7 linked regions of the Homo sapiens genome follow. The protein of the gene in region 1 purifies or fractionates together with the protein of each later gene. This does not show direct contact. Each region holds a gene or a part of one and is shown in the gene's direction. Other genes may lie near its edges.

Region 1 (3,500 bases):
ATCTCCTGGGTTCAAACGATTCTCCTGCCTCAGCCTCCTGAGTAGCTGGGATTACAGGCATGCGCCACCATGCATGGCTAATTTTTTTGTATTTTTAGTAGAGACAGGGTTTCTCCATGTTGGTCAAGCTGATCTCGAACTCCTGACCTCAGGTGATACGCCCGCCTCAGCCCCACAAAGTGCTGGGATTACAGGTGTGAGCCACTGTGCCCAGCCGTGCTGTTTGAATTTTGAATGCTTGTTATCTATATTAGATTATGGATAAACACACTAATGACTGTGTTAGTGTATTAATCCCCATCCCATCTGGAAAATAATAAGTGACTCTTTTTTAGCCTTCTGTGTGCTGTGGAAGGAATGCCAGGATACCTGTTTATTACTTATCAAGTGCTGGAGAAGCTGCTTTCATTCACCCAGCCCCAGCGATGCACAAAACAAGGATTTCAAGTTGTTTCCCTCTTGTGCTCCAGCCCTGCCAGTGAATCCCCTTTATCTTCCTGCATTATAGCATCTGAACTCCTATCATAGCATGTACTTGTAGAGCTGGACTTCCCTTTCCTATCTACCCTTGGTCCTCTTTTGGAATACAGCCCCTTGCTCCAGAGAGGTTGGGCTCTTCAATGTTTTTTTGCACATGGTGTTCACTCCTGTGCCCATAATTTTTTTGTGTGCTGTTGCTTCTGTCTTTTCAAACAGTGCCCATTTTCTAGGTCCACCTCTTGTCTAGCTTTTACCAGGTGCCCCAGCCCACACTGGTAACCACTGCATCCATGTTCTCTGACACTCGCTGTCTGTGGGATTTTTTTAGAAGTTCAACCTTACTACGTAACTATTTAATGTGACTGTCACTTGTCTCCCCAGCTGGAACAAGGGAAAATGTTAGGATGACATAAGGTAGCACCTTAGACTTTGGCTTAGTCTCAACCACATCAGGCTCCTGAGCTCAAGGAAGAATCTTTTGGGCAGCCTAGGTTAGCATACCTGAGTTCCTCATACCCTTCTACTTTCACAACTCTTGAGTGTGAACCAAGTCCTCAAGGTCAATTTCTTTTCATATCTGAGCTCCAAAGCCTCTCTTGGAGTAAGCCCTCCCTTAACTTTGTTCCTGTCTAGGCTCCCAGGAGCCGAGGCACAGCTGGAACAGCCTCCAGTGCCAATGCCTGCCTTAGTACAATGACACTCATTTCTTGGTTGAGCAGAAACTTGTTTGTAACAACTTAACCTGTTTCTCCTCCCTCTACCTTAAAGAGCTTAAACATTTAACAAGACTATATCTTTCATCCCTTCCTCCCTCTTTCTTTCATAAAACCTCTCTTTCTTCCACCTTTCTCCAGCTAATTCATCTGGAGATCAAACCCGCAATCCGGAACCAGATCATAAGGGAGCTGCAGGTTCTGCATGAGTGCAACTCTCCGTACATCGTGGGCTTCTATGGTGCGTTCTACAGCGATGGCGAGATCAGTATCTGCATGGAGCACATGGTATGTGACACCCTCTCAGCCTCTGGAGCAATGGCCTTAAGAGTTGGGTGGCTCTGGCCTAATCTTTGGTCTGGGAGGTGACCAGCTACCTCCCTGCTGCTCCTGGGATCCACATCACTATCTGGGGCATCTGGGAAGTCTAACTGTAGAGCTTGGGATATTCACAAGATGGCAGGCCTCCTTTCTAGGTCCTTGCCTCTCTTGAAGGAAGTGGGCAGTATTCCTGGTGGGTGTACCTAGAGCACCTCTCATAGTTTTTTTGATTCTGATTACCCTAAGATGTGATGTAAGTAAAATCTGGTAAATACAGTTTAAATCCATTTCTTGTGTACAATGCTGTATGCTAGGTGCAAGGCTCTGGAGTTAAAAAGATGACATAATCTACTGTAAGGGCAGCCTGAAGGGTTTCTCTGGGTTTCTGTATGATGCACGTTAGTGGAAGGAGAGGGCAATGGAGAGAGAGGGCATTCATGGGCTAATTAATCATATGCATGTTAGCTGCCAATCATTTTACCACTATGTTCTTGGAGTCCCTCCTTTTCTTCAGATATAAGTCTTCCAACACACTGTGCAACTTAGGGAATTCTGCAAGTATTAGTCTTTGCTTTATTCTCCCTGGGCTGATGGCTTAGAGATGAGGGCTGACGTGAGTCTGCACACTTGGTGGCTGTTGTGCTTTCAGTCCAGTATTGTGTCTCTCAGCTCCTACCCCATTTTATTCCTGATACTTGAGACCTGCCCTGACCTTTAGAATAGGGATCCTGGTGTGCAGCCTTAATGAACTTTAGAAGAACCCTCCTGGGAGGATTCTCTACTTGTGCCTCCATTATTTTGAACCTCTCTTCATTGTAATGATCACGAAGTGCTGCATCCACTGTTATAGGCATCTGCTGACATTTGTGGGTGCCATATGGAACCTAAATCCTAAAAACGTCTTCTGCACATCTAAAGGTTAGAGAAAGTGCTTGTTCCTTCTTTCCTCAATGAGAGCAGAGCATTCTCTGTGGGAAGCATATGAACATTTCTGGCTTGGTCCTAGTGCTTGGCCTGGGGTGCTGATTATTTTCTGCTTGGGTCTTGGCTTCCCCTCAGGGAGCTGTTTCTTATCCCTTGGGTCTCTTGTGTTCTTTTTTTTTTTTTTTTAATTTATTTTTATTTTTTAGGGTGATGAAGGGTTTTTTTCCCCTTTCTTTTTTTTTCTTTTTGTTTTTTTAGACAGAGTCTCGCCCTGTCACCCAGGCTGGAGTGCAGTGGCGCGATGTCGGCTCACTGCAACCTCCACCTCCCAGGTTCAAGTGATTCCCCTGCCTCAGCTTCCAGAGTAGCTGGGATTACAGGTGCGCACCACCACGCCCCGCTAATTTTTTTCTATCATTACTAGAGATGGGGTTTCACCATGTTGGCCAGGCTGGTCTCGAACTCCTGACCTCATGATCTGCCCGCCTCGGCCTCCCAAAGTGCTGGGATTACAGGCATGAGCCACCGTGCCCAACCAATCTTTTTATTTTTCTTACATTGACCTCTTTTGAGATACTAGGAGGCTTCTTCATTTACATTGACCTTTTTTGAGATGCTAGGTGGCATCCTTATTCTGGAATTCTTTATTCACTTTGAACTTACAGATGTTGATCACATCTCTTGTGCCCTTGCCATGTCCTCCCCTTCCTTCAAGCCTTCCTCCTCCTTCAGGAGAAAATGACACTGGAAATGACTGGAGTTGGTTTCCCATTCTCTTAGCCCATTTCCAGTGACTGCAGGTCAGTTTTTCCCCCCATGGATTTGGCTCTCTGGAAATAGTGAGATGTTCCTGCACAAGTCTCTGGAGTTATCGTGGAGAGCATGAGACTGGGAGGGGAAAATGTTTCAAGGGCCAAGCACAGTGTCTGGCACCTGTTAGGTGGTATGTGTTGAGTGACTGAATGAGAGTGGCCAGGATGGGGAAGACCTGGTCAGGCTTGGGACTCGATGGGGGAGGGTTAGGCCTTGGAGCCTGCCATAGGACCTTTTGGCCCTGGGTGT
Region 2 (4,327 bases), on another chromosome or scaffold:
GGATTAGAGAAATGTTTTTTATTCCCTTCCCTTCACTCCTGAGCTTCCCTCCATCCCTGTCTTTCTTCCTCCCGTCTGTCCGTCCATCCATCCATCCATCCACCCCTCCCTCCCTCCCTCCAATTTTTATTGAACATAGTAAACATATTTAATAAAAATTTCAGGCATTGTTCCAGGGCCTGAGGATTTAGCAGTGAACAAACAGACAGTATATCTGCCTTTAACGAAACTTACATGGACAGAGTGGTGGGGGATAGACAGATAATTAAACAAATTAATAGGCAATAAAGATGTAGATGTTGGCATTTTTATCACTAAGAGGTTTCTTGGTATTTTTACCTAATAGTTACTAATGCCTACAGGAACCAGAGTGGTCACAATGTGCTGCTGTGTGATTTTGTGTTTTTCAGAGAGGAATTCATAGCAGTGTGCAGTGCAAACTGCGCTATGGAATGTGGCATTTCCTACTTGGGGATAAAGCAAGCAAAAGACTGACAGAACGCAGCAGAGTGATAACTGTAGATGGCAATATATGTACTGGAAAAGGCAAACTTGCAAAAGAAATAGCAGAGAAACTAGGTATGATTTTATGTTACACAGAATGATACCTTTTTCTCAGATATATGGTTGCTTATTTCACTGGTTTTTCTTCAATATTAATATTAAATAATATTAAATATTTAATAATTGGGCCTAAGGTGGGTATTTCACATTTTTGTTTATTGAAAAAGCTGTTTTATAAAACGAAACAAGAAAAAGCTGTTTTTAATCTTTTATGTTTGGAAAATTTGTGAAAATCCATGCTGGTTGTCAATTTGAATTGGAATTTTATGTGGGCAGTGTAAGCAGGGCACTTCCACATAAACTGTCGTGTTTGAACTTTGTGACAGCCTCTGAAATAGAGCCGAGGATGGTACTCACTCACAGATGGGTGTACTCCTGAGTGAGCAGATGCCACATAGCTGGGTCCCAAAGCCAAGGTTAGAGCCCCTTCCTGACTCCTGGTGCAGCTGAGTGTCCATTGTACCTTTCTGTAGCACCTGCATGACAGCAGCTGCCCGCTAGAGGGGGCTCCTGTGGTTACAGGGAGCAGTCCTTTCAGGAGGAACCTGGATAAGGGCACTGTGCAAGCTCTTTCGCTCACATGCTTGCTTGTATATGTTGTGTGTTCCCTTCATACGTGATGAAACCCAGGCATGTAGGTGACTTTCTCTAGGTCATTGGCTCCATCCCTGGCGGTGAGATTCGGGCGGGCTGTGTGTTTTGGCTAGTCCCCACTGCTCCCTGCGGGGAGTGAGTGATGTGCATCAGACTGCATCCGACTGTTTCTCTTTTCAGGCTTCAAGCACTTTCCTGAAGCGGGGATTCATTATCCAGACAGTACCACAGGAGATGGGAAGCCCCTCGCCACCGACTATAATGGCAACTGTAGTTTGGAGAAATTTTACGATGATCCGAGAAGCAATGATGGCAACAGTTACCGCCTGCAGTCCTGGTTGTACAGCAGTCGCCTGCTGCAGTACTCAGATGCCTTGGAGCACTTGCTGACCACAGGTGCAGTATTTCTGGGCAGTTAGATCTGTTCTGTACTTGAACACTATTCTAGAATTCAACCACGTTAAATTGCCACTGAGTCGAGCTTTCCTTTAAGGGTGTTTGATGAGGTGAGTTCTGTCTTTCCAACAAGATCATGAATTTCTTGAGATTGTGTTATTTTTGCTTCAGAATTAATTTAATGCTGTTTCACTATGGATACTGGAGTGAGATTTATGGATTGTATAGAATTCTCAAGGCACTACTTTAAGCTTCTATACTTACATATTCATTTATATATGAAATGTGTCAAAACAAAGGGGTAAAGAGAGCACAGAAGTGTCCAGGAGGAAACGGGATCACACTTATGAAGACTGTGCATGTGCCATGCAGACAGAGATGTGGATGCCAACAACATAGGGTTGTCCCGGAGGGCCCAGAGATAGGCCGGAATCACCATAAAGCCACGAGGCAGACGTGAATCTTGATAAGATGACGGGGGGAGGCAGAACACACAGGGTCCCATAGGCCAGTGCAGTAGGGGAGGATGCTTCCCTTGAAGGTATCCAAAGCAGAAAGGAAGAGCTGTGTACTGGGGAGCCTGGGAGACGGAAACAGGGATCAGAAAGTATAGTTAGGAGAGGAAGGGAAGGTGGATGAAAGGGCATGAACATGGACTACTTGTGTGCAGAATGAGGTTAGGGTCCAGCGACGGGTTACTGTAATCATTCTGGGAAACAGCAGTGCATGCTAGACATCCTGAGAGTTGGACCGCAGATGCACTGCCAATTTTTGGTCAAAGCTACCATGCCACGGCGGTCCTCAGTTCACAGGTAGCAGCAAATGGCACATCTGTGTGCGGAGAGAGGGAGATGGGTGGACTCTTAGGGCCTTCGTGTCTGTTTTATATTGCAGTGCTTGCTGCTTTCGTTGATTGGCAGTGCCCCTGATGAGCTTCTCACGCACAAGCTCAGCCGCCACTAGGGTTGGCTTCATGGGGTCTGAGCCGTGAGAACAAGAATGTGGTTTTCACTGGGAGTGGCCGGCTCACAGGCTTCTTCTCAGAGCTGAGCTAGGAGCCGCTGCCTATGCTCCTTCAGGTCTCCACGGATGCAGTGTGTGTCCATGACACGTATCTACACAGTTGTACGGTGGTGGAGTTATTGTCTTGCTTTGAAAAAGTTGAAAACATTTTATTAGTGCTTCTTTTTTTCTTATATGAACGTAAACCCTGATCTTGGTTAGTGTTACTCCTAAGAAAACAATGTGGTCTGCTGTTTCTGGTTTGAGGTTCTTTACCAGGAGCCAATCCAGGAGCTGATGTCGTAGCGTGGACTTCACACTGACATCCAGGCTTACTCCACGTTCTTTTTTTTTTTTTTTTTTTTTTTTTTTTTTTGAGACGGAGTCTCGCTCTGTCGCCCAGGCTGGAGTGCAGTGGCGGGATCTCGGCTCACTGCAAGCTCCGCCTCCCGGGTTCATGCCATTCTCCTGCCTCAGCCTCCCAAGTAGCTGGGACTACAGGCGCCCGCCACTACGCCCGGCTAATTTTTTTGTATTTTTAGTAGAGACGGGGTTTCACCGTTTTAGCCGGGATGGTCTCGATCTCCTGACCTCGTGATCCGCCCGCCTCGGCCTCCCAAAGTGCTGGGATTACAGGCGTGAGCCACCGCGCCCGGCCTCCACGTTCTTTTTAAAGCATTCTTCAACCCTGTCTTCTGACTACTCATTTCTTAAAATGAAAAAGAAACATTTTACTTGTTAAATAAAGCCTTGCTTTTTTTGGTGCTATAGTAACCTATTTCCCATTTAGAAAAAAAAAGTGCAGCTTGCTCCCATCTCAGTATTCTTGGGGCAAATTGGAACTGGGTTAACGTATTCATTAAATATTTAGTGCATGTCTGCTGTGTGCCAGACCCATTCTGGGAGCTAAGGGCGCCACAGGGAGGGAAGCCTGTGTTTTAGTAGAGGGATGAAGACTCGATGTGGAAACAGGAATGTCTTGCCCCAAGTGAGTGGTGGCTGCTCTGAGGAAGGAGGCTGTGGGGAGAGGCTGGGTAGGAAGATTAGGGGAGGCCTCTGCCCAGACACAGCAGGGCTGACTGCAAGGAGGCTGGCTGGGGACCCTGGGGACTAGTGCTCTGAGCTGCACAAGTGTCCGTCGGGGCTGCTGTGATAGTAACACAGCCAGTGAGGCTGGGAGTGGACAGAGGTGAGGTTGAGAAGTAGCCCAACATCAGTAGATCTGACTGGAATGGTGGGGGCAGGAGCAGGATGGGGGTGGGCACTGTAGGGGTGGAATACGTTATTTAAAAACAAGCACTTTTTGTATTAACCGGATGCTTTCTGTTATAGCTGACTTAATGAAACGATGTTATATTGCTCAAAACTGAAAAGATACTTCAGTTTTTGAAAATGGTTTCCCACTTACAAATATGTCTATGTTCTTTTCAGTATTTTGGTGTGGAAATGGAATTGTAAATGATTGTTATTTTCTTTTCTCTGGAATGCAGTGATCAGTTGACAGTGCTTTGCTATCTGTCTGATTTTCAATTTCTGTTTGCCTATGTTTAAACAGGACAAGGTGTTGTGTTGGAGCGCTCCATCTTCAGTGACTTTGTGTTCCTGGAGGCGATGTACAACCAGGGATTCATCCGAAAGCAGTGTGAGTCAGCATTGCAGACCCACTTCTGGGTGTGTGGTGCGACTTTGCAAGGGCTGTGATAGACTCACCTTGCACTTACTGTGTTTATGAATGTCTGTTAGATAGATGAATAAATGCCATTACTTAATC
Region 3 (4,327 bases), on another chromosome or scaffold:
GGGATGCCTCTATGAGGTGCAGTTTGATAACCACTCAAAAAAACATTCCATGGCTATCCAACCCTTGACTTCAGCAGAGCTGAGATTTGATGCAGGCAAATTTGAGATGTTCTTGGCCTGCAAAGTCTGAGTGTGGTGAGTGGTGGACAGGAGAGGTGTCAGTGGATGGCGGACACCGTGGTCCAGGGGCTGTGGGAGTTGGAATGGAGCGGTTCTCAGGCAGGGAAAGGCAGGGTGGAATGGCCTCAGGACAAGCACATGGTAGGGGAGGGGGCTCTCCAACGAGTCTCTCCACCCGGGCCCACTCTAGGCAGCTCACTGCTCTGGTCCCAGAGGGTCCTTGTCCCCCAAGCAGAAATTGGGCTCCTGGGCCTATGCCCCCGCCCATCCAGATAAGTAGATGGAAGGGGGAGGGTTTGACCGCCCCAACTGGGGCCACGGGATTCAAGGGACAACTTCCAAAAGAACAGGGGATTTCTGCACAGACAACAAAATAAATGGCCAATTGAGCAGTGTTTTCAAGCTTTTTTTAATTAGGTGTCACAATAAGAAAGAAATTTTAAATTACATCCTGTATATAAAGTCACACAGCTACACCAGAAGTTTTTTGTTGTGTTGTTGTTTTGTTTTCTTTTGTTTGAGACAGGCTTTCACTCTTTCACCTAGGCTGGAGTGTAGTGGTGTGATCTCGGCTCACTGCAGCCTTGACCTCCTGGGCTCAAGTGATCCTCCCACCTCAGCCTCAGCTGGGACTACAGGCACATCCCACCATGCCCAGCTAATTTTTGTAATTTTTTTGTAGAAATGAGGTTTGACATGTTGCCCAGGGCGGTCTCAAACTCCTGGGCTCAAGCAGTCCACTTGCCTCAGCCTCCCAAAGTGCTGGGATTACAGGCGTGAGCCACCTCACCTGGCCCCAGAAGTTTTATAAACCAGTATCTAACTCTACCACACACAAAACACTGTTTGTCTTTAATTTCTTTTTCTTTTTTTTTTTTTTTTTTGAGACAGATCTCAAAAAAAAATCCAGTCTGTTGCCCAGGCTGGATTGCAGTGGCGTGATCTCAGCTCATTGCAACTTCCGCCTCCCAGGGTCCAACGATTCTCCTGCCTCAGCCTCCCAAGTAGCTGAAGCAGTCGTGCACCACCACACCCAACTAATTTTTGTATTTTTAGTAGAGACGGGATTTCCCCATGTTGGCCAGACTGGTCTCGAACTAATGACCTCGTGATCCATCCGCCTCGGCCTCCCAAAGTGCTGGGATTACAGGCATGAGCCACCGCGCCCAGCCTTGTCTTTTATTTCATTCTGGGATACAGGGGTGTCCCCAGAGTCTTAGTGCAGTTTTAATAAATAACTTCAGATGTTTAAATGTACAAACCTACAAAACATCAGTTGAATATTTACTTATTTAAATTTCTTTTCCACTTAGTTTCCTGACAGTCAAGTGCTAGATTTTTTCATTTTAATTCTCCGCATGTGCTAGTGTCTGGAGGGACAGGCAGGCAAAGGACCCCTTTCCTGGGCTGAATTGACCTCCCTTGAGGTCACGTGTGCACAAAATCCAGTTCTTTGGAACCTGGTGAAGCTGGAATCACCAGTGCAATCTTTTCCCGTCACTGACCAACAGTCGATAAAAGGTTTTTCGAAGTTTGAACAACTAGAGCCATGTATAGCACTAGAGGGGGTACTGTAAGAATCTGAGTGAGAGATATCAAGGTATTTTAAATGTAAATAACCTTTCAAATGTCATTTTTTGGTACATTTGTAGTATCTATACTTCTGAAGTTATTAAAGCCTCAAACTTCACCAAGACTTTGGTCGCCCATTTTTTTTTTTTTTTAACAATACTAGTAAGGCCTTCTCATTTGCTTTCCTGACCCATCAATGGGTCATGACCACAGCTTTTTAAAAATCAGACTTCCAGGCCGGGCGCGGTGGCCCACACCTGTAATCCCAGCAGTTTGGGAGGCCGAGACGGGCGGATCACCTGAGGTCGGGAGTTCGAGACCAGCCTGACCAACATGGAGAAACCCCATCTCTACTAAAAATACAAAATTAGCCAGGTGTGGTGGCACATGCCCATAGTCCCAGCTACTCGGGAGGCTGAGGCAGGAGAGTCGCTTGAACCTGGGAGGTGGAGGCTGCAGTGAGGCAAGATCGTACCATTGCACTCCAACCTGGGCAACAAGAGTGAAACTGTCTCAAAAAAAAAAAAAGAAAAAATCAGACTTCCAAAGTCAAGTACAATTTTTTTTTTCTTTTGGTGACAGGGTCTTACTCTTGCCCAGGCTGGAATGCAGTGGCACCCCCATGGCTTACTACAGCCTCAACCTCTTGGGCTCAAGCGACGCACCTGCCTCGGCCTCCCAATGTGCTGTGATTACAGGTGTGAGCCACTGTGCCTGGCCCAGAATCTAAATGTGTACCAGCCTCTCTGTGCTCAGGAGGGCTTGGGCACGTCAGCTGATACTGGGTCCTTTGGGGATACGGATCTGCCCTGGCTCATGGACTCCTCGCCCTGGAGTGCAATTATTTGTTTGTCTTTCCTACTGGACCACGAGCTCCGTAAGGCAGGGACTGTGCTCATTGTTGCTGTTGTTTTTCATTTAATCTTTGTGTCCTTTGCACATAATAGGAGAACTGGCCTCCTGTCTATTCTTGATATTGGGCTTAGTTCCGGGGCCGTGCCCTGAATAGGTCAGTGACTGTTTGCCTGTCATTAAAGAGAGACATCAACCATGAGAAAAACCAACTGTTTTTCTGTCCATGCACACAACACTCCACAGAACCCTTCACTTCTGATACCAAATATGCAGCCAGCCCCACCCCTGCAACCAACACCTTCTCCAGCCACCCAGACACCAAGTGGGTGTCCTCCCGTTCAACTCTGACATTAACTGCCTGGAATCAGTGCAGACCCCACAGGTTAGGGCCCAGTCCCACAGACTGCCCCCTACTTCAGGGGCCAATCACAAGTATCAGGTCCCCTCGTTCCCCACACTTTGGTCCTACTTGCCTACAAATCAAGGGTTCCATGAACCCCTCCTCAAGTTGAGTAATTTGCTACAGCGTCTTACGGAGCTCAGGGAAGCACTTATGTTAACTGGTTTATTAGAAAGGAAGTGATAAAGGCTACAGATGAACAGCCAGATGGAGGTACCTAAGTAGAGTAAGGTCCAGTAGGGTCCTGAATGCAGGAGCTTCCGTCCCCATGGAGTTGGGGTACGCTACCCCCTGCGCACGGGAATGCATTCAGCAGCCTGGAAGCTCTCCAAACCCTATCGGGATGTTGACGGAGGCCTCATCACATAGGCGTCATCGATTCTTAACTCAATCTCCAGCTCCTCTCCAGTCTCTGGAGGAAGCTGGGGGGTGGTGGGGCTGAAAGTTCCAAGCTCCTCATTGCAGCTTGATCTCTCTGGTGATCAGCCCACCCAGGAGTTACCTCATTAGAACAAAAGACACTCCTGTCACCCGGGAAATTCCAACGGACTTAGGAGCTCTGTGCCAGGGACTGGGATCAAAACCAAATGTTAGAACAAAACATGCTGCTAGCACCCCTGTAACTTAGGAAATTCAAGGGACTTAGGAGCTCAGTGTCAGGGCTGGGCATGGTGGCATGCACCTGTGATCCCAGCTATTCCAGAGGCTGAGGCAGGAGGATCGCTTGAGCCCTGGAGGTCAAGACTGCAGTGAGCCGTGATTGCACCACTGCACTCCAGTCTGGGCAACAGAGCAAGATCCTGTCTCAAAAAACAAACAAAATAAAAACTGTGTCAAGAACTGGGGGCCGAAACCAAATATATATATATTTAGGATGTTACATTCTTTCTACTTTTTTTTTTCCAAGTGATCCTTCTGCCTCAGCCTTCTAAGTAGGTGGGATCACAGGTGCGTGCCACCATGCACAGCTAATTTTTAAATTTTCAGTAGAGGCGAGGTGTGCACTATGTTGCCAGGCTGGTCTTGAACTTCTGGGCTCAAGCAGCCCTCCCACCTCAGCCTCCCAAAGTGCTGAGATTGCAGGCATGAGCCACCACACCTGGCCTCTTACTTTTTTTTTCTTTTTTAGAATATATAAGAAAATAAATAAAGAAAAAATGGGGTCTTTGGATCTGACTGTCCAAAGACACCATTAGCATTTAAAAAATATATTTAGTCATTCATGCATATTAATGGAAAGTCCAAATTATACTGAACTCTATAAGACGGAAAGGAAAAGCTGCCCCCCAAGCTCCTTTCCCAAGAGGTAGCCACTGCTGACAGTTTCTCGTGGGCCCTTCCAAAAAACAAACCTTTTCTCTGCATTTTCGAGCACATGCG
Region 4 (3,798 bases), on another chromosome or scaffold:
TGCAGGTGCAGCCGCGGGAAGCCTCTGGGGAGGCGGAAGCAGAGGCGGAGGAGGCCGATTCCGGTCCAGTCCCTGGTGGGGAGCGGCCCGCAGGCGAGGGCCAGGGTGAGCCAACCTCACGGCCCAAGGCAGTGACCTTCTCGCCAGACCTGGGCCCGGTGCCCCACGAGGGGCTGGGGGAATACAATCGAGCGGTCAGCAAGCTGAGTGCCGCCTTGAGCTCGCTGCAGCGGGACATGCAGAGGCTCACGGACCAGCAGCAGCGGCTCCTGGCCCCGCCCGAGGCCCCCGGATCCGCCCCACCACCTGCTGCGTGGGTCATCCCTGGCCCCACGACGGGGCCCAAAGCTGCATCCCCCAGCCCCGCCCGGCGAGTCCCGGCCACCCGGCGCAGCCCTGGGCCCGGGCCCAGCCAGTCACCCCGCAGCCCGAAACACACGCGGCCAGCGGAGCTGCGGCTGGCACCCTTGACCAGGGTGCTTACGCCACCCCACGACGTAGACAGCCTCCCCCACCTGCGCAAGTTCTCGCCGAGCCAGGTGCCCGTGCAGACGCGCTCTTCCATCCTCCTGGCGGAGGAGACGCCCCCCGAGGAGCCAGCCGCCCGGCCGGGCCTCATCGAGATCCCGCTGGGCAGCCTGGCAGATCCCGCCGCCGAGGACGAGGGAGACGGGAGCCCCGCTGGTGCTGAGGATTCCTTGGAGGAGGAGGCGTCTTCGGAGGGGGAGCCCCGGGTGGGGCTGGGGTTCTTCTACAAGGTGAGTCCCCGAGCAGGTGGCTGGAGGGTCCTGGGCCTGGGGCGGGGGCGGGTGGGGGCGGGGGGAGGTGGACAAACCCACTATTGGATGAATAGGGCTTTACTGAAGGATGGGTGGGCGGGTGGGGGATAGATGGGGAGCCAGGTATGAATGGACAGAACAGGTGTGAGTGGCTGGGTAAGGCCTCCATGGGTGGGAGAGGGGGGAAAGGGACATTTGCACGGTGGGGGGCAGGTATGTGGGGTGACAGGGGCCTCAGATGGGATTTGACCCTGTCTGTTGGGTAAGGACTTCCACAAGGGGCTGTGGGGGTGCAGTGGGGTGAGAGGTCCTCCCCCTGTGGCTTAATGAGTGAGGCCCTCGGGTATGTTTGGGGGTGAGGGGTTTCCAGTGGGGGCTGACCCAGTCATGTCCCTCCCAAACAAGGTATGGGTGGCCGGACAAGGGGGATAGATAGATGTGGGGAGGGGTGGAGAAACAGGGAGGAGTCATGGATAGACAGATGGATGAATGGCTGGTTGCATGGGTGGGTGGGTGATGGACAGATAGACGGACAGGACCAGGATCTTCAGCGCACCTCCTTGCTCATCCTCTCCTTCACCCCCTCGCCCCCAGCACGCTCCTACCACCCCTTTCCTGGCCCTGCCCTGTGTCCACTGTCTCTCCATTCCCATGGCTTTCCCAGCCGGGGACACCTAGGGTTACCTGACTGGCCTCTGCTGCCTGCCTCCATCCCGGGCCATTTTGCACTGAGTGGTCGGGGATTTTGACTGCTCCCCTTACCCTTGCTTTTAGAATGAAAGTCCTCCCCAGGGTGGCCGGGCGCAGTGGCTCATGCCTGTAATCCCAGCACTTTGGGAGGCCAAGGCAGGCGGATCATGAGGTCAGGAGATCGAGACCATCCTGGCTAACATGGTGAAACTCCGTCTCTACTAAAAATACAAAAAATTAGCTGGCGTGGTGGCGGGCGCATGTAGTCCCAGCTACTCAGGAGGCTGAGGCAGGAGAATGGCGTGAACCCAGGAGGTGGAGCTTGCAGTGGGCCTAGATCGTGCCACTGCACTCCAGCCTGGGCAACAGAGCGAGACTCCATCTCAAAAAAAAAAAAAAAAAAAAAAAAGTGAGCACAGCCCAAAGCCCTGGGGAGGACTTCCTTTTCATTTTTTTTTTTTGTTTTGTTTTCTTTTGTTTTTTGTTTTTTGAGACAGAGTCTCGCTCTGTGGCCCAGGCTGGAGTGCAGTGGCATGATCTCGGTTCACTGCAACCTCCACCTCCTGGGTTTAAGTGATTCTCTTGTCTCACCCTCCTGAGTAGCTGGGACTACAAGAGCATGCCACCACGCCCAGCTGATTTTTGCATTTTTAGTAGAGACAGGGTTTCTCCAGGCTGGTCTCGAACCCCTGACCTCAAGTGATCCACCTGCCTTGGCCTCCCAAACTGCTGGGATTACAGGTGTGAGCCACCGCGTCTGGCCTGTACTCACTTCTGACTTAGTCCTGCGCCACTGTCCTCAGCTCTGTGTCCCAGCCACACTGGCCCCCTTGTACTTCCGTGCCCCCCAGTAGGTTTGCTCCAGCCTCAGGGCCTCGGCACTAGCTGTCCCCTCTGCCTGGAACGCTCTGCTCTGTACGCCCACCTAGTTAAATCCTGATCATTCTACAGGGTACTTCCTCTGGGAAGCCTTCCTGGGTGTCTCCAGGCCAGGCCGGGGTCCTCCCGCAGTGTAGAGTGTCTGTGCCCAACACGAGCTTTTGCTGGCACTCACTGCTGTCTGCTGCTTTTGTCTTCCCCGTTGGGTTAAGCAGTGTGTGTGTGAGCGGCACCCAGTGTATCCCATCCCTGTTGTGTCCCAGTACTTAGTGTGGGGCTGTGCATACAGTAGGCACCAACTAAGTGCATTTAGAACAATGATGAAAACAAAAGCACAGGTGGGTGGCGGGCAGGCTGGGTGGAGGGAAGATGGGCCTCCAGCCATGTTGGGGGAGGGGGTGGCTGGCTGGACTCGGCGTCTGTCCCCAGGATGAAGACAAGCCTGAGGACGAGATGGCCCAAAAGCGGGCCAGCCTGCTGGAGCGGCAGCAGCGGCGAGCAGAGGAGGCGCGGCGGCGCAAGCAGTGGCAGGAGGTGGAGAAGGAACAGCGGAGGGAGGAGGCCGCGAGGTGAGGCCGGGCCTGCCCGGGACGCCCGCTCCTTGGCCTGTCTGCCACCGCGGACCCCGTGAGCGGTTCTGATGCCGATTCCCTGTGATCTGCAGGCTGGCCCAAGAGGAGGCCCCGGGCCCAGCCCCGCTTGTGTCCGCAGTCCCGATGGCGACTCCAGCCCCTGCTGCCCGGGCTCCAGCCGAGGAGGAGGTGGGCCCCCGGAAGGGGGACTTCACGCGGCAGGAGTACGAGCGCCGGGCCCAGCTGAAGCTGATGGACGACCTCGATAAGGTGCTGCGGCCCCGGGCTGCGGGGTCCGGGGGTCCAGGTCGGGGCGGGCGGAGGGCCACCCGGCCTCGCTCGGGTTGCTGTGACGACTCAGCCCTGGCACGAAGCCCAGCCCGCGGCCTGCTGGGTGAGGACCCTTGGGGGACGGGGCCTGCCCAGTGCCCTTTCCGGGGCTCACTGGGTGAGGCCCCCATGGGTAAGGGGGGAGGGGGAGGGAGATGTAAGCAGGGGTGCCGGGAGGGGGCGGGTATGTGGGGTGACAGGGGGCCTCAGGTGGGGTTGGACACTGTCTCTTGGGTAAAGACTTCCATAGGGGGCCGGGCGCGGTGGCTCACGCCTGTAATCCCAGCACTTTGGGAGGCTGAGGCGGGCGGATCACCTGAGGTCAGGAGTTTGAGACCAGCCTGGCCAACATGGTGAAAGCCCATCTCTATTAAAAATACAAAAATTAGCCGGGCATATGGCATGCCTGTAGTCCCAGCTACTTGGGAGACTGAGGCAGGAGAATCGCTTGAGCCTGGGAGGTGGAGGTTGCGGTGAGCCAAGATTGCACCACTGTACTCCAGCCTGGGCAACAGAGCGAGACTCCGTCTCAGAAATAAGACAAAAAA
Region 5 (4,327 bases), on another chromosome or scaffold:
AGGTAATAAAATTTAAAAAATAAAAATTAAATATTAGAATGTGAGAAATTTATTAAAATATAGTTCTAAAAATAAGTTTCTTCCTGAGAAGAATGATACTGTTTATGATGAATCCATAGTGAAAAGACAGTGACCTCTCTTTCATCCAGTCTAGTATATCACTAAATCATCATTACGATGTTTGGCTATCAAGTCATTAATTACTGTCCTCCTTTCACTGAGCTTTATTCAAATTTTGACAATCAGAGCACTGGGAAGAAATAAATTCCACAACTGCCTTTAGCCTTCTGGATACTTTCTTTTATAAAATAGAAACCTTTTCCACACCAGTTCTGCAGCAGTCGCTATTAGATGCTCGTGGTAGAACCCATCAATCATCTGGTCCTCTGGGTACTGGTGAGCATCCCTGGTCTTCATACCTGTGAGTGGGCTTTGTGGTGAATTACTGTAAATATGCTACCCTCACTTTTCTTGGCAGTTATGTCGATGAAATCAAGAGTGTGATGTTCTAGTTATTTTTTTTTATATATATTTTTAAATGTTCAATATTCAACTATTGAAACAAATGTACATCTGTGAACTAGCTAAAATCATCTTATGTACCACTAATATGCCCAGCACATTTTGTAAAACAGTCCTGATTTGGCCTCCAAGGGTATTTATTGAACTACCAGCAGTATCTAGGAGACCACGAAGGAATACCACGAAGGAATTTATGCTCCAGTGCTTGCCATAATTTGTCTGAGAAGGAATCTGTTAAATAAAAGCTTTTATCCTCTAACCTTTACCTTCATCAGACCTTATAAAAGGTCAAATGGTGATTCTTAAGTTTTTTAGTCACAAATCTTACTTATTCAGTATTAGTGCGAAGAGTAGAATACTTTCAAGTAAGCCTAAACTTACATGAAAACAAATTACATAAATCTAGCTCTGAGAATAGGAAATTAGTGACAAGATCAATCTGTAAGATGTTGAGCACTTATCTGAAGTAAATGGGTAATGAGTTTCACATCTTATAAATACAAGTTAGCATGTGTTTTCTCAAGAGTCCAAGGGTTTTCATTATTGGACTACAGCTTTAATCTTCTAAATGTTATTCCCCAAGATTAAAGAGCATCTCAAGTTAGATCACCAAAGATCAAAAGCTAAAACCAGAAGTATTTTTGTCATTGTGGTGGTGGTAGTGTTACTAATTGCCTAGATTTTTAAAGGGAAACATTTTTTTCACTGGGTTGTTTCGTTGAAAAAAATAGAAGCAGAAACTTGCCCAAAGTCACAGTGGTCAAACTGGAAATTGCACCAAAACTTGGCATACTGGTTCTGAAATCCATAGTTTTAGCCCTTATGTATACTGGTTAATTTGGAAGGAAGAAATATATACGTTCTGAAGTGAAGAGTGAGTGAAAGGAAGAATTCAGTGAATACATTGATACCTTGATATTATCTGCATTGTGGCTACATGTTACTTTTCTTCACAAGAGTGATATAAGTGAAATAAAGAATGATTGGACTGGGAGAAAAATGGCTCAGAAAACTTTGCAAAAGTACGACTGTATGTAAAGATAAGTATTCAACATTAAATGGGAAGGAGGAGAGCAAGCAGTTTAATATATAGAATTTTATAATTTTAGGCCTGCAAGGGACCTTATAAAACATGAGCAATGGAACACTTTTTTCCAAACTAAATTTCGTGCAGTGGAACTTGGCCGACTCTGTCCTTCCTCTATTCTAAGCACCCTACTCTAGCCCGGCTGCTCTGAGTTCAGTTTGTTACAAATATGGACACGAAAGTACCACAGGCTTTGCACAGCTTAATTGAAGTTTCCCCTTCACACCATGGTAAAAAAACATACTGGGATGGAAGGGTTTGTGTCTAGAACAAGAACAAGAAATAAACTCTTGGTCACTTACTAATATTTCAAAATCACAAAGCAGAATTTTGCTTGGATGTTTAGTAAAACATCCTTGGAAATTTAACTGCTTGCAGCTTCTACACTTCTTCATTAAATGCTGTCTGGCTAATAAAAAGTGCCATGTTGCAGCTTTATTTTATTTTCATTTTTTGGAGATAGACCCTCACTGTGTCACCCAGGCTGGAGTGCAGTGGTACAATCTCTGCTCACTGCAACCTCCACCTCCTGGGCTCAAGTGATTGTCCTGCCTCAGCCTCCTGAGTAGCTGGGGTTACGGGCGTCCACCACCACACCCAGCTAGTTTTTGTATTTTTAGTAGAGGGGGTTTTTGCCATGTTGGCCAGGCTGGGCATGGTGGCATGGTAATCTCAGCTACTTGGGAGGCTGAGGCAGGAGGATCGCCTGAACCCGTGAGATGGAGGTTGCAGTGAGCTGAGATCACACCACTGCACTCTAGCATGGGTGACAGAGCAAGACTCTGTCTCAAAAAAAAAAAACAAAAAAAAAAACGAAAACAGAATTCTGTTTGTTTGGATGACCTGTTATACTTATTTTTGATCTTGCTGAAATAAGCAAATCTTAGGAATCTTAGTCTACAGTTTCTGACAGTTTTTTTTGTTGTTGTTGTTTGACCAATTAGAACTAAATAAAAAGAACGTGATTTTCACATTTAAATTTCTCTTAAATGTATTCCTAGAACAGTAAGCCATTGGTTTAATTGCTACTTGATGCCAGTTTCCTTGAAGATAGCCGTTAAGATAAAACATGGTTTCATTGTTAATTCTGTAGAAAGTTACATGTTACTATTATGTTATTCTATTGGTGTATTGTTCCTTTTACTCACCACAGAGATTGTCCAAACACTTGTCATTATTGGGGCAGGCACTGCAGGTGGCTCCTCTCTTATATGGCCAAGTTGGGTAATTCCCTCTGTAAAGCAGAAGAAGGATGTCCATTAGAAGTTTTTCGGTTTTTTAAAATTGCAATTTACTATGAATCCTTAACTAAATCCAGAAGAATAGTGGAGTGAAGTACAAAGGTCCAGAGAGTTGGTAATAGAAGTGAAGACAGGAAGGCAGAAATGGAAGGCTGCTAATATTTGCATAGTTCATTCTATGTACCTGTGTCTATGCACCTGTTTTAATCTGCATCCCATTTAATTGTGACAGCTCTGAGAGGAAGTTATTCTTGTTTTACAGATGAGACAAAAGATGTAAGAGATACCTTTAATCACAATTTATACACTTCAGAGTCAGAGGAAACCTGGATTTAACTCCAGGGCTGTGCTCCCTCTCTTTACCTACCCTCTGGCCTATATGATTACTGCCATTTAAAAAACTGTCCATCTTAGAAAAGCTATGGTGACCCACATTCAATATTCTCAGTTGGTCAGCCCTCCATAATTTTCACTGGATAGGAGCCATTTGGCTGGTGCCTTCCAAAAAAATAATAAATAATGGTATGGGGGAATTTCTAAAGTACAAATTGTTTTCACATACAAGATGTGATATGAATAATAGCTGCTAATTAGTGAGCACTACCATGTGCTTGTCTTTGTTCTAAACAACCTTGAATGAAATAATCTTCACAAAAACCCTATGAGGAAGTTACTGTTGTCTATTTATACCCATTATATAGCTAGAGGCTGAGTCACAGAGTATAAGTAATTGACCAAGGTCACAGACTAGAAAGTGAAATAATATCCAAGCATTTTATATCCCCATAAATATCCTCATAGTAGTAATGGGGAGAGGGGGCACATTTATCTCAATGAACCTGCCATTGCACTAATTTTTTTTGGAACTCTGCTTTTGGAAAAAGTTCTAAACTTTTTTGTGTAATCGTACCCTTTGGCAGTCTGGTGAGGCCTATGGGCTCTTTCTCAACATAGTTTGTTGTTAAATGCATAAAATACATAGGATTATAAAGGAAACCAATTAAATTGAAATAGTTATCAAAATGTTTAAAACAAGATTTGTGATAAAGTAATATGTGCTTCTCTATTAAGATCTACCGGGGGCTATTAGTTTCAATGCAGTGATGAACACAAACTATATTTTGAGTTCTCTGCAGCAAGTGGAATGTGGTATGAAAATATCTGATATTTACAAAGATGATACTGCTAAGTCAGAGTCACGTTTATTGCTAATATGATGGTGGAGTGTTGTCTTCATTCATAATGAAAGGAAATGTTATTTTTAATAGAGGTTAGTGAAAATAAAAATAAAACTATTTTCTAATCAAAGTTTATGGTCCTCCTCTCCCCAGCACTCTACAATTACCTCCAAAGTTGAGAACTCTCACCTTAGACACACAACTTTATAACGATACCTTATTTCCAACCCCAAATCTATGTTCTTATCTCATTTTGCTCCAAATTTTAAGTTGCTTCAGAAATTTAATTAGCCCTCTGC
Region 6 (4,327 bases), on another chromosome or scaffold:
CTTATGGAGCCACTGTATATGTTGTCCTTAATTCACAGAAATGTCATTGTGCACGCATTACTGTATTTGCATATGATAAATATTGGAGCAAATAAGTGGTCTTATCAACTGAATTTTCAACTCACTGCAGTCTAGAAGAGTTGGGGTTGAATGTTTTGAAGTGGTATGAAAAATAGTACTTGTGTGAATGAGTTGTAAATGTCTTTTTCAATATATCAGTTAATCATATGTTTATCAAATACTTATGTTTATTCTGTAACTGCCATTATCTGACCTCATCTGTTTAAATATTTGACCTCATTGAAGTTTTCCTGTCCTAGACTCCTTAAAGTCAGATGTACGGTCTTTTGCAGTTAAGAAATCAATATAGCTTTCCCTTTTCCAGTATTTTTTCTTTAAGATAACTTACTTTCCCTATAAGGGAACACCATAAAACTATAAGTTGTTTTAATTACATGAAAGAGAAGAAAATCTAAATAATTTGTGTCAGGAAGCCATGGAAGTTCTCATTTGGGATTTCAGTGTTTCTAAGTAAACTTCTCCTTCTTTGTCACAGTATATGTTCTGTTTATTTAAACAGGGGCCTCAAATCTGACCCTATCGGAAACTCAAAATGGAGATGTATCTGAAGAAACAATGGGAAGTAGAAAGGTTAAAAAATCAAAACAAAAGCCCATGAATGTGGGCTTATCAGAAACTCAAAATGGAGGCATGTCTCAAGAAGCAGTGGGAAATATAAAAGTTACAAAGTCTCCCCAGAAATCCACTGTATTAACCAATGGAGAAGCAGCAATGCAGTCTTCCAATTCAGAATCAAAAAAGAAAAAGAAGAAAAAGAGAAAAATGGTGAATGATGCTGAGCCTGGTAGGTATTTATTATCTTTGAACTTCAGCCATTTAGTTTTTCACAGACGGTTATTGTTCCTCTTTCTATTACTATTGTGTGCACATGACATGAGAATTCCCTGTACTCACCAGTATGTTAGAGATTAGCCTGGTAGCTAATGGAAACATTTTATTGGCAGAAGCGGGGAGTCCATTTCAACTTTTCTCAAAATATTGAGGAATATATTTTTAATTTCACTAACCTTGAAGAAAACCTCTCTCAGAAAAGACTCTCCTTAGAATTCTAGAAATTTTCTCTTCTTTTTAAGTTACCTTTTTTCCTGCTTGATTCTTCCCATTTTCCTTCCATAAATTCCTCCCTTTGAAAGGAATATTAGTTACAAAGTATATAAAGTAGGAAACTTCTGAATAAATGGAACATTAATTTCCAAGTGCTAAGAATGGCAGGAGGAAAAGGAAGGAATGTTTTTTGAAGATGATGGAATTTCAGTAAGCTCGGATGAAAGAATGGACATTATAATTGAGATTTGTATAAGCAGAGATATCAAGGTAGGATAAGATAGGGGTCAGCAAACTATCCCTCCTTCTACCTGTTTTTGTAAATAAAGTTTTACTGGGTCATAGCAATGCCTATTTGGTTGTGTTTATGGCAACAGAGATCATATGACCTGCAAAGCCTAAACTATTTACTATCTGGCCCTTTGCGGAAAGTTTGCCAGCCCCTGAGTTGGAACATCCTATTCATGTATTTTACCTGAAATAAGGGTTTTATTTAGAAAGGGACTTTGAACTTTTCCAAACATGCATTACTGTCTTCATGATGCCTACACACAGAAGTCATTGTAATCCTGTTCTAAAATTATTGCCTTCACAATTCTTGTTTTGAGTATGCCCCAGGAAGTGGTATTATTTCTGCTCCCAAGCATTGAATCACAATGCTGGGCGTTTTAACCTTATGGGTTTTTTGTTTGTTTGTTTGTTTGTTTGTTTTATTATGAGATGGGGTCTCACTGTGTTGTCCAAGCTGGTCTTGAACTCCTGGGCTCAAGTGATCCTCCCACCTCGGCTTCCCAAAGTGCTGGGATTACAGGCAGAAGCCACCACACCCAACCACCTTATGGGTACATTTTAGGAACTATTCCAGGGAAAACAAAATAAGCCATGGAGACCAGCTGAAGATATCTGTGGCTTTTGAACATGTAGGTCCTACAAAGTTGACTCTTTCCTGGAAGGGTGGCCGTCAGGTACAGGGAGGAGACCAGTACTGAGCTACAGAGAGTCCTGGGTTGTGGTCTAAGTTCTTTTCAAACATCACTAATTGCCATATAGTTTTATATAAACACAGCATGTGGTTAATCCATTTGACCCAGAGTCGAACATTGAAAAGAGAAGTGAGAGGTAGGACTGAAAAGGTAGTTGGGGCCACATGAAAGTTGTGAATGTAGAAATGAGGGTGGGAAGAAGCCCTGCCTTTCCTCCCACCCTCATCCCTGATAGCCAAGGCACAGTCCAGTGTATGTCAGCCAGGCAAGTGGGTTGTTGCCCTTCCTTTACAGTCTATCTCTAGTAACATGAAGAGCCTTTGATAGTGATTGGCGTGGGAAGAAAAATGACTACTTATAATGAGTTTTTAAGGATTATGTTAATCAGGTATGCTTCCTTTCCCCTCAGTGGAGTATGTGAAACTTATAATTGGTATGTTTATACTGTTTAGTTGAACAAAAGCCTAAAAGGTTTTGTCACCAAGTCTGTCTGTACCCTGGGTTTTTAAATACAACCACTCATTTTTCACCAAACAGAATTCTTAACAAATTAATACAGCATATACTTAGCTTTTGAAAATATACGTCTTTATATCAGAGATCTTCTGTTTGTTGATCTCATTTGGAATTCTATTTTAAGGAAAAATTTTTTCGGATTTTGTCTTTTAAAACCAAAGATACGAAAAAAGCAAAAACTGAAAACAAAGGGAAATCTGAAGAAGAAAGTGCCGAGACTACTAAAGAAACAGAAAATAATGTGGAGAAGCCAGATAATGATGAAGATGAGAGTGAGGTGCCCAGTCTGCCCCTGGGACTGACAGGTAACGTCCAGGAAGTTTTCTAGAGGTAACTTCTTTAAAATGTGCCTCTCTTAGAGGATTATAGGTTTGAAGGTTCAGTTGTGACTTTCAGTTTACCTGAAAAAAGTAACTATCAACAAGAAACTTTTTTTATATCTTTCTGCTGCTTTTTCTCTTTATCTTCTATTTTGTGGTGTTTTAGTTCTTTTTGTTCCCTGTTTTTTTCCTTTTGTTCATTCCTGACACCAAATATTTTATATGCACACTAGCAGCTTCTAGGATTCCTTGGTTTGTCCTTTTCTGAGTCTCATTCTATGTTGTAATAGGAAAATGATTGGCCCTGTACGAGGTTAACCTCCTTTGGCCTTTGTTCCTTTATAAAGTTGAGTTTAGGCTAGAATTCACTGCTCCTAACCAGATATGTCTAGGAGTTACTTGAGTTGTTTATTTGGTTTGGGTTGGTTGGTTTGTTAAAATGTTGAGGCCCAACCCTAGACCTGCTTAATCCAAATTGCAAACGTTTTGGTAGTAGCTCTCGAGCAGGGAAATTCGCCCCCCGAGTAAGAAGAGTAACTCTTCCTGGTTTGCCCAGAACTTTAACAGTTTTAGCACTGAAAGTTCTGAATCCCAAGAATCTCCTCTGTCCCTAGCCTACTGAGAAGATTGGTCATCCTAAGCCTAGGAGACATTTTTGGTTCTCAGAGCTAGGAGCAGTCTGCTGGGATCTGGTGAGTAGAGGTCAGAAACACTGCATAATATCTTATAAGGCACAGGATAGTGTTTCACAGCAAAGAATTATTCAGCCCAGATGTCAGCAATGCCAAGGTCAAGAGTGATTGGTTTACACCCTGGGCATGTGGAGTATGGGGAACCCCCAGGTGATTTTGATGCCTTCTGCTGAACCACCACTGTATTACTTGATACGTAGGCTCAGCCTAACATTCTGTGGCTGTATCTGACTCTTCTGTGTCTTGTTGGAGTGAGATTAACAGGTTTTTTTTTTATTATTGACTTCACACTCAGTTTTTATTAATGCTCAATGTTTTCACTTTTATATCAGATTTCTTAAACATTTCATTTATCTCTGGACTCTCATTATTTTCCTTGTTTTGGTATTTTTATTTTATATAAATTCCTTGGTTATACCTCCTCTCTACCCCTTGTTTTGTTATAGTATGGTCTCTGGACTATAACTCACACAGCCGTTAACAGTGGAGAAACTTGAAAGATATAGGGTCTTTTTCTTGATATTATCACATATGAATAATTAAGGTTTAGCCTTTTCTTACTGCGGGAAGCTTTTCTAAGCAAAATAGATTTAGGCAACTGTAGCAATACTTTTTTAAAAAAAAAGATAAATTTGCTAATGATAAATTGTCTTCTGTTTAGGAGCTTTTGAGGATACTTCGTTTGCTTCTC
Region 7 (4,327 bases), on another chromosome or scaffold:
GGAAGGGCGAGGAGTTGGAGGATAGGGGCTTCCCTGGGGCCTTCCATGCAACTCACTTTCTTTTTTTCCTAGAAATGGCAGAATCACTGGGGCAGGGTCCTGCGGGAGAGGAGGGAGAGGGGGGAGGTCAGCATGGGCAAGACCTCGGGCATCTAAAATACCCCATCTGAAACCTAGTATGGCCGTCCAAGAGGGTCCCCAGCTGGCTGAGTCTGAATTTCTGCACCTCTCTCTAGGCCCCGAGGCTCCTGCCCTCCCAAAGACAGCTGCTCAGCTCAAGAAAGAGGCAAAGAAACGGGAGAAGCTAGAGAAATTCCAACAGAAGCAGAAGATCCAACAGCAGCAGCCACCTCCAGGGGAGGTGAGGCGAGGGTGGAGCTGGAAGGAAAGTTGATGTGTGCGGTGATGGGTTGGCTGATGCCTGGGCCTATGTCTTCTCCCTCCCAAGCAGAAGAAACCAAAACCAGAGAAGAGGGAGAAACGGGATCCTGGGGTCATTACCTATGACCTCCCAACCCCACCCGGGGAAAAGAAAGGTACTAGGAGTGGGAAGGGGCTCACCCCTCAGCAGCCCCTTCTAAGTTTTCACCCTATCTTGCTCTATTCTTGCTCTCACCACTTTGTTTGGTGAGGAATTGCAGACCCCCTGCCCTGCCTCTAGGCCCCTCAAATGCCTGTCCTATGATGTGAGTGACGGAGATCCCGATCCCTCTCTGCCAGCACGTCTCCTTCCCAGAGTGCTCCCAGCCACGGCACTGAGCCCTCCCTTCCTCTCCCCCAGATGTCAGTGGCCCCATGCCCGACTCCTACAGCCCTCGGTATGTGGAGGCTGCCTGGTACCCTTGGTGGGAGCAGCAGGGCTTCTTCAAGCCAGAGTATGGGGTGAGTAGGCACTGCTGCCCAGGCCCAGAGTGGGTGGGGTGGGGAAGGGCAGGACTGAAGGATGTGTTGCCTGGGAGGGGCTGGGAGAGGTGACCTGAGGCCTTAAACATGTGCCATCCTTCTCCACCATCAGCGTCCTAATGTGTCAGCAGCAAATCCCCGAGGTGTCTTCATGATGTGCATCCCACCCCCCAATGTGACAGGCTCCCTGCACCTGGGCCATGCACTCACCAACGCCATCCAGGACTCCCTGACTCGATGGTGAGCTTCTATCTGCACCTTCCTCTGGTTCCCTCTGCCTAGTCTGGCTCTCTCCTTTTCCCTGACAGCCCCCCGAGCCTCTCTCCTTCTGGGTTGGTGCTCACTTCTGCCCCCAGTGGTGCTACACTTCTCTCTGTCATTCCAATCTGATCATTTAGCTTCCTCTCCTAGTCCAGTACTCCCATGCAACACCGCCACTTGCAGACTCTCTTCTATCCCTTCTTTCTTTATTTAATTTTAATTTAATTTAATTTAATTTTTTGTAAAGATGAGTTTTCACTTTGTTGCTCAGTCTGGTCTCCAACTCCTGGCTCAAGTGATTCTCCTGTCTCAGACTCCCAGAGTGCTGGGATTATAGGTGTGAGGCACCACACCCAGTCTCTCCCTTCTTTTTCTAGTAACAATAACATTATTTTGAATTTAATTAGGAACATATGAATATATATATTTTTTTTTGGGGGGACAGAGTCTTGTTCTGTTGCCCAGGCCGGAGTGCAGTGACGCCATCTCGGCTCATGGCAACCGCTGCCTCCTGGGTTCAAGTGATTCTCCTGCCTCAGCCTCCCAAGTAGCTGGGATTACAGGAATGCGCCACCACAACTGACCAAAATATATGAATATATTCTTGTAAGAAATTTAAAGTTTCAAATCTCCTTGACCATCCCCCTCCACACCTACTTCCTCCTAAGATTTAGCCATTGTTATCACTTTGATGTGTATCTTCCCAGATCTTTCCTATTTACTTACATATACACGTACCCATAGAAATTTATAGTTCTCCTTTTGGGTGAGTCTTTTCTATTTTTTAACATAAAGGGTTCATATTACACTTGTTATGATCTAGCTTTCTTCTTACACTTAATACTTTCTCTTGGAGATCTTTCCTTGTCCTTACACACATACCACACATACTGACTTCCTTCTTTTTAATTGTTCCATAATATCTCATAGTGTGGCTGTACCATAGTGAAGTCATTCTTTTTTTTTTTTTTTTTTTTTTTTTTTTTGAGACAGAGTTTCACTCTTTTTGCTCAGGCTGGAGTACAGTGGCATGATCTCGGCTCACCGCAACCTCCACCTCCTAGGTTCAAGCGATTCTCTTGCCTCAGCCTCCCAAGTAGCTGGCATTACAGGCACCTGCCACCGCGCCTGGCTAATTTTTGTATTTTTAGTAGAGATGGGGTTTCACCATGTTGGCCAGGCTGGTCTCAAACTCCTGACCTCAGGTGATCTGCCTGCCTCGGCCTCCCAAAGTGCTGGGATTACAGGCGTGAGCCACTGCTCCCGGCCTGGAGTCACTTTTTAATTAATGATTCATTCTGTTTTTTGTTTTTTGTTTTTTTTCTGTTGAAAACCTTACTCTAATGCACATCCCTGTATATCAAGTTTGTCCAACCTGCAGCCTGTGGGCCACATGCGGCCCAGGACGGCTTTGAATGCAGCCTAACACAAATTTGTAAACTTTGTTTAAACATTTAAGAATTTTTTTGCGATTTTTTTTTTTTAGCTCATCAGCTATCGTTAGTGTTAGTGTATTTTTTTAAATTTATTTTTATTATTTATTTATTTATTTATTTTTTGAGACGGGTCTTGCACTGTCACCCAGGCTGGAGTGCAGTGGCACAGTCTCGGCTCACTGCAAGCTCCAAACTCCGCCTCCCACGTTAACGCCATTCTCCTGCCTCAGCCTCCCAAGTAGCTAGGACTACAGGTGCCCACCACCACGCCCGGCTAATTTTTTTTTTGTATTTTTAGTAGAGACGGGGTTTCACCATGTTAGCCAGGATGGTCTCGATCTCCTGACCTCGTGATCCGCCCGCCTCGGACTCCCAAAGTGCTGGGATTACAGGCGTGAGCCACTGCTCCCAGCCAGTGTTAGTGTATTTTATCTGTGGCCCAAGACAATTCTTCCATGTGGCCCAGGGAAGCCAAAAGATTGGATACCCCTGCTCTATATGCTTGCTGAAGCATGTGTGGAAGGGTTTCGCTGGTGTAGCTATCAAGAAGTGAAACTGCTAGGTCGGCAGGGGCACACCTATATTAAGTACAAACGGAAGCTGCCAAGTTGCCCTGCAGAATGGCTTTGCTGATTGATACCTCCAGGAATTGCTGTGAGAGTGTTCATTTCCCCACCCTTGCTAAGCCTGAGCATTAGGGTTGCCTAATTAGTTTTGCCAATCTGATGGGCAAAAAAATACCTCTGTTGTTTTACTTTGTACCTTTCTGATTGCTATTGAAGTTGTGCCTATTTTCATGTTTTTTGGCCAGTCAGGTTTACCCATATGTGAATTGTCTGTATCTATCTTTTCCCCGTTTTTCTATTGATTCTTCGTTCTTTTTCTTTTTAATTTTTTTTTTGAGAATTCTTTACCTGTTCTGGGTATCAATTTTTTTGTTAAATATTGTAAATGTTTTTGTTGTATTATTGTGTGGTAGTTTTCCTGTTAATTGTAAATGTTTCTCCTGTTTTCTGTTACTATTTGTTTTCACTGTTAATATTTTAATTAGTGATAAATACAAAGTAATATTCTAGGTGACAAATCTTTTTAAAAAGTATTTTAAAATAACTTTACCATTTTTGGAAACCAGGGTTTATTATATTTAAATTTTGAGAATTTTTTCTGGTGTCTTATGTACTAAATTAATGTGGTCAAAAAATATTTACTGGGCCCAACTATGTGCCACCTCTGCTCTGAGCACTGGGAATATAATGTTTGATTGTGCATTTTGCAAGTAACTGAGAGCTAGGAAAACAGTTATATGTTTTATTTTTTTATTTTTATTATTATTATTATTATTTTGAGACAGAGTCTCTCTCTGTCGCCCAGGCTGGAGTGCGGTGGCGCAATCTTGGCTCACTGCAAGCTCTGCTTCCCAGGTTCACAGCATACTCCTGCCTCAGCCTCCTGAGTAGCTGGGACTACAGGCGCCCGCCACCACGCCTGGCTAATTTTTTGTATTTTTTTTAGTAGAGACAGGGTTTCACCCTGTCGGCCAGGATGGTCTCGATCTCTTGACCTCATGATCTGCTCACCTCGGCCTCCCAAAGTGCTGGGATTACAGGCGTGACCCACCGCGCCTGGCCTGTTTTTTTTTTTGTTTTTTTTGTTTTTTTGAGACAGAGTCTCTCTCGGTTTCCCAGGCTGGAGTGCAGTGATGCGCGCTTACTGCAACCTCTGCCTCC

Evidence for each region.
Region 2: the proteins of MAP2K1 (region 1) and NDUFA10 purify together in Homo sapiens (affinity purification with mass spectrometry; one large-scale study listed by BioGRID and IntAct). This does not show direct contact.
Region 3: the proteins of MAP2K1 (region 1) and MXRA7 purify together in Homo sapiens (affinity purification with mass spectrometry; one large-scale study listed by BioGRID and IntAct). This does not show direct contact.
Region 4: the proteins of MAP2K1 (region 1) and CAMSAP3 purify together in Homo sapiens (affinity purification with mass spectrometry; one large-scale study listed by BioGRID and IntAct). This does not show direct contact.
Region 5: the proteins of MAP2K1 (region 1) and KRR1 purify together in Homo sapiens (affinity purification with mass spectrometry; one large-scale study listed by BioGRID and IntAct). This does not show direct contact.
Region 6: the proteins of MAP2K1 (region 1) and DDX18 purify together in Homo sapiens (affinity purification with mass spectrometry; one large-scale study listed by BioGRID and IntAct). This does not show direct contact.
Region 7: the proteins of MAP2K1 (region 1) and VARS1 purify together in Homo sapiens (affinity purification with mass spectrometry; one large-scale study listed by BioGRID and IntAct). This does not show direct contact.

Annotation. Positions count from the first base shown.
Region 1 is NC_000015.10:66,435,412-66,438,911, forward strand, and holds part of MAP2K1 (dual specificity mitogen-activated protein kinase kinase 1), read left to right. Parts: intron 1-1,334; coding exon 1,335-1,481; intron 1,482-3,500. UniProt on the Homo sapiens protein: Dual specificity protein kinase which acts as an essential component of the MAP kinase signal transduction pathway.
Region 2 is NC_000002.12:240,018,424-240,022,750, reverse strand, and holds part of NDUFA10 (NADH dehydrogenase [ubiquinone] 1 alpha subcomplex subunit 10, mitochondrial isoform 1 precursor), read left to right. Parts: intron 1-410; coding exon 411-579; intron 580-1,338; coding exon 1,339-1,554; intron 1,555-4,111; coding exon 4,112-4,198; intron 4,199-4,327. UniProt on the Homo sapiens protein: Accessory subunit of the mitochondrial membrane respiratory chain NADH dehydrogenase (Complex I), that is believed not to be involved in catalysis. Complex I functions in the transfer of electrons from NADH to the respiratory chain.
Region 3 is NC_000017.11:76,690,153-76,694,479, reverse strand, and holds part of MXRA7 (matrix-remodeling-associated protein 7), read left to right. Parts: intron 1-4,327.
Region 4 is NC_000019.10:7,612,406-7,616,203, forward strand, and holds part of CAMSAP3 (calmodulin-regulated spectrin-associated protein 3), read left to right. Parts: coding exon 1-758; intron 759-2,777; coding exon 2,778-2,917; intron 2,918-3,012; coding exon 3,013-3,314; intron 3,315-3,798. UniProt on the Homo sapiens protein: Key microtubule-organizing protein that specifically binds the minus-end of non-centrosomal microtubules and regulates their dynamics and organization.
Region 5 is NC_000012.12:75,494,093-75,498,419, reverse strand, and holds part of KRR1 (KRR1 small subunit processome component homolog), read left to right. Parts: 3' UTR 1-2,757; coding exon of another isoform or gene 2,758-2,843; 3' UTR 2,844-4,327. Other genes in the region: GLIPR1 (glioma pathogenesis-related protein 1 precursor), read right to left, coding at 2,758-2,843. UniProt on the Homo sapiens protein: Part of the small subunit (SSU) processome, first precursor of the small eukaryotic ribosomal subunit.
Region 6 is NC_000002.12:117,816,864-117,821,190, forward strand, and holds part of DDX18 (ATP-dependent RNA helicase DDX18), read left to right. Parts: intron 1-580; coding exon 581-865; intron 866-2,785; coding exon 2,786-2,929; intron 2,930-4,297; coding exon 4,298-4,327. UniProt on the Homo sapiens protein: ATP-dependent RNA helicase that plays a role in the regulation of R-loop homeostasis in both endogenous R-loop-prone regions and at sites of DNA damage.
Region 7 is NC_000006.12:31,788,426-31,792,752, reverse strand, and holds part of VARS1 (valine--tRNA ligase), read left to right. Parts: intron 1-236; coding exon 237-361; intron 362-448; coding exon of another isoform or gene 449-451; coding exon 452-536; intron 537-781; coding exon 782-882; intron 883-1,015; coding exon 1,016-1,143; intron 1,144-4,327. UniProt on the Homo sapiens protein: Catalyzes the attachment of valine to tRNA(Val).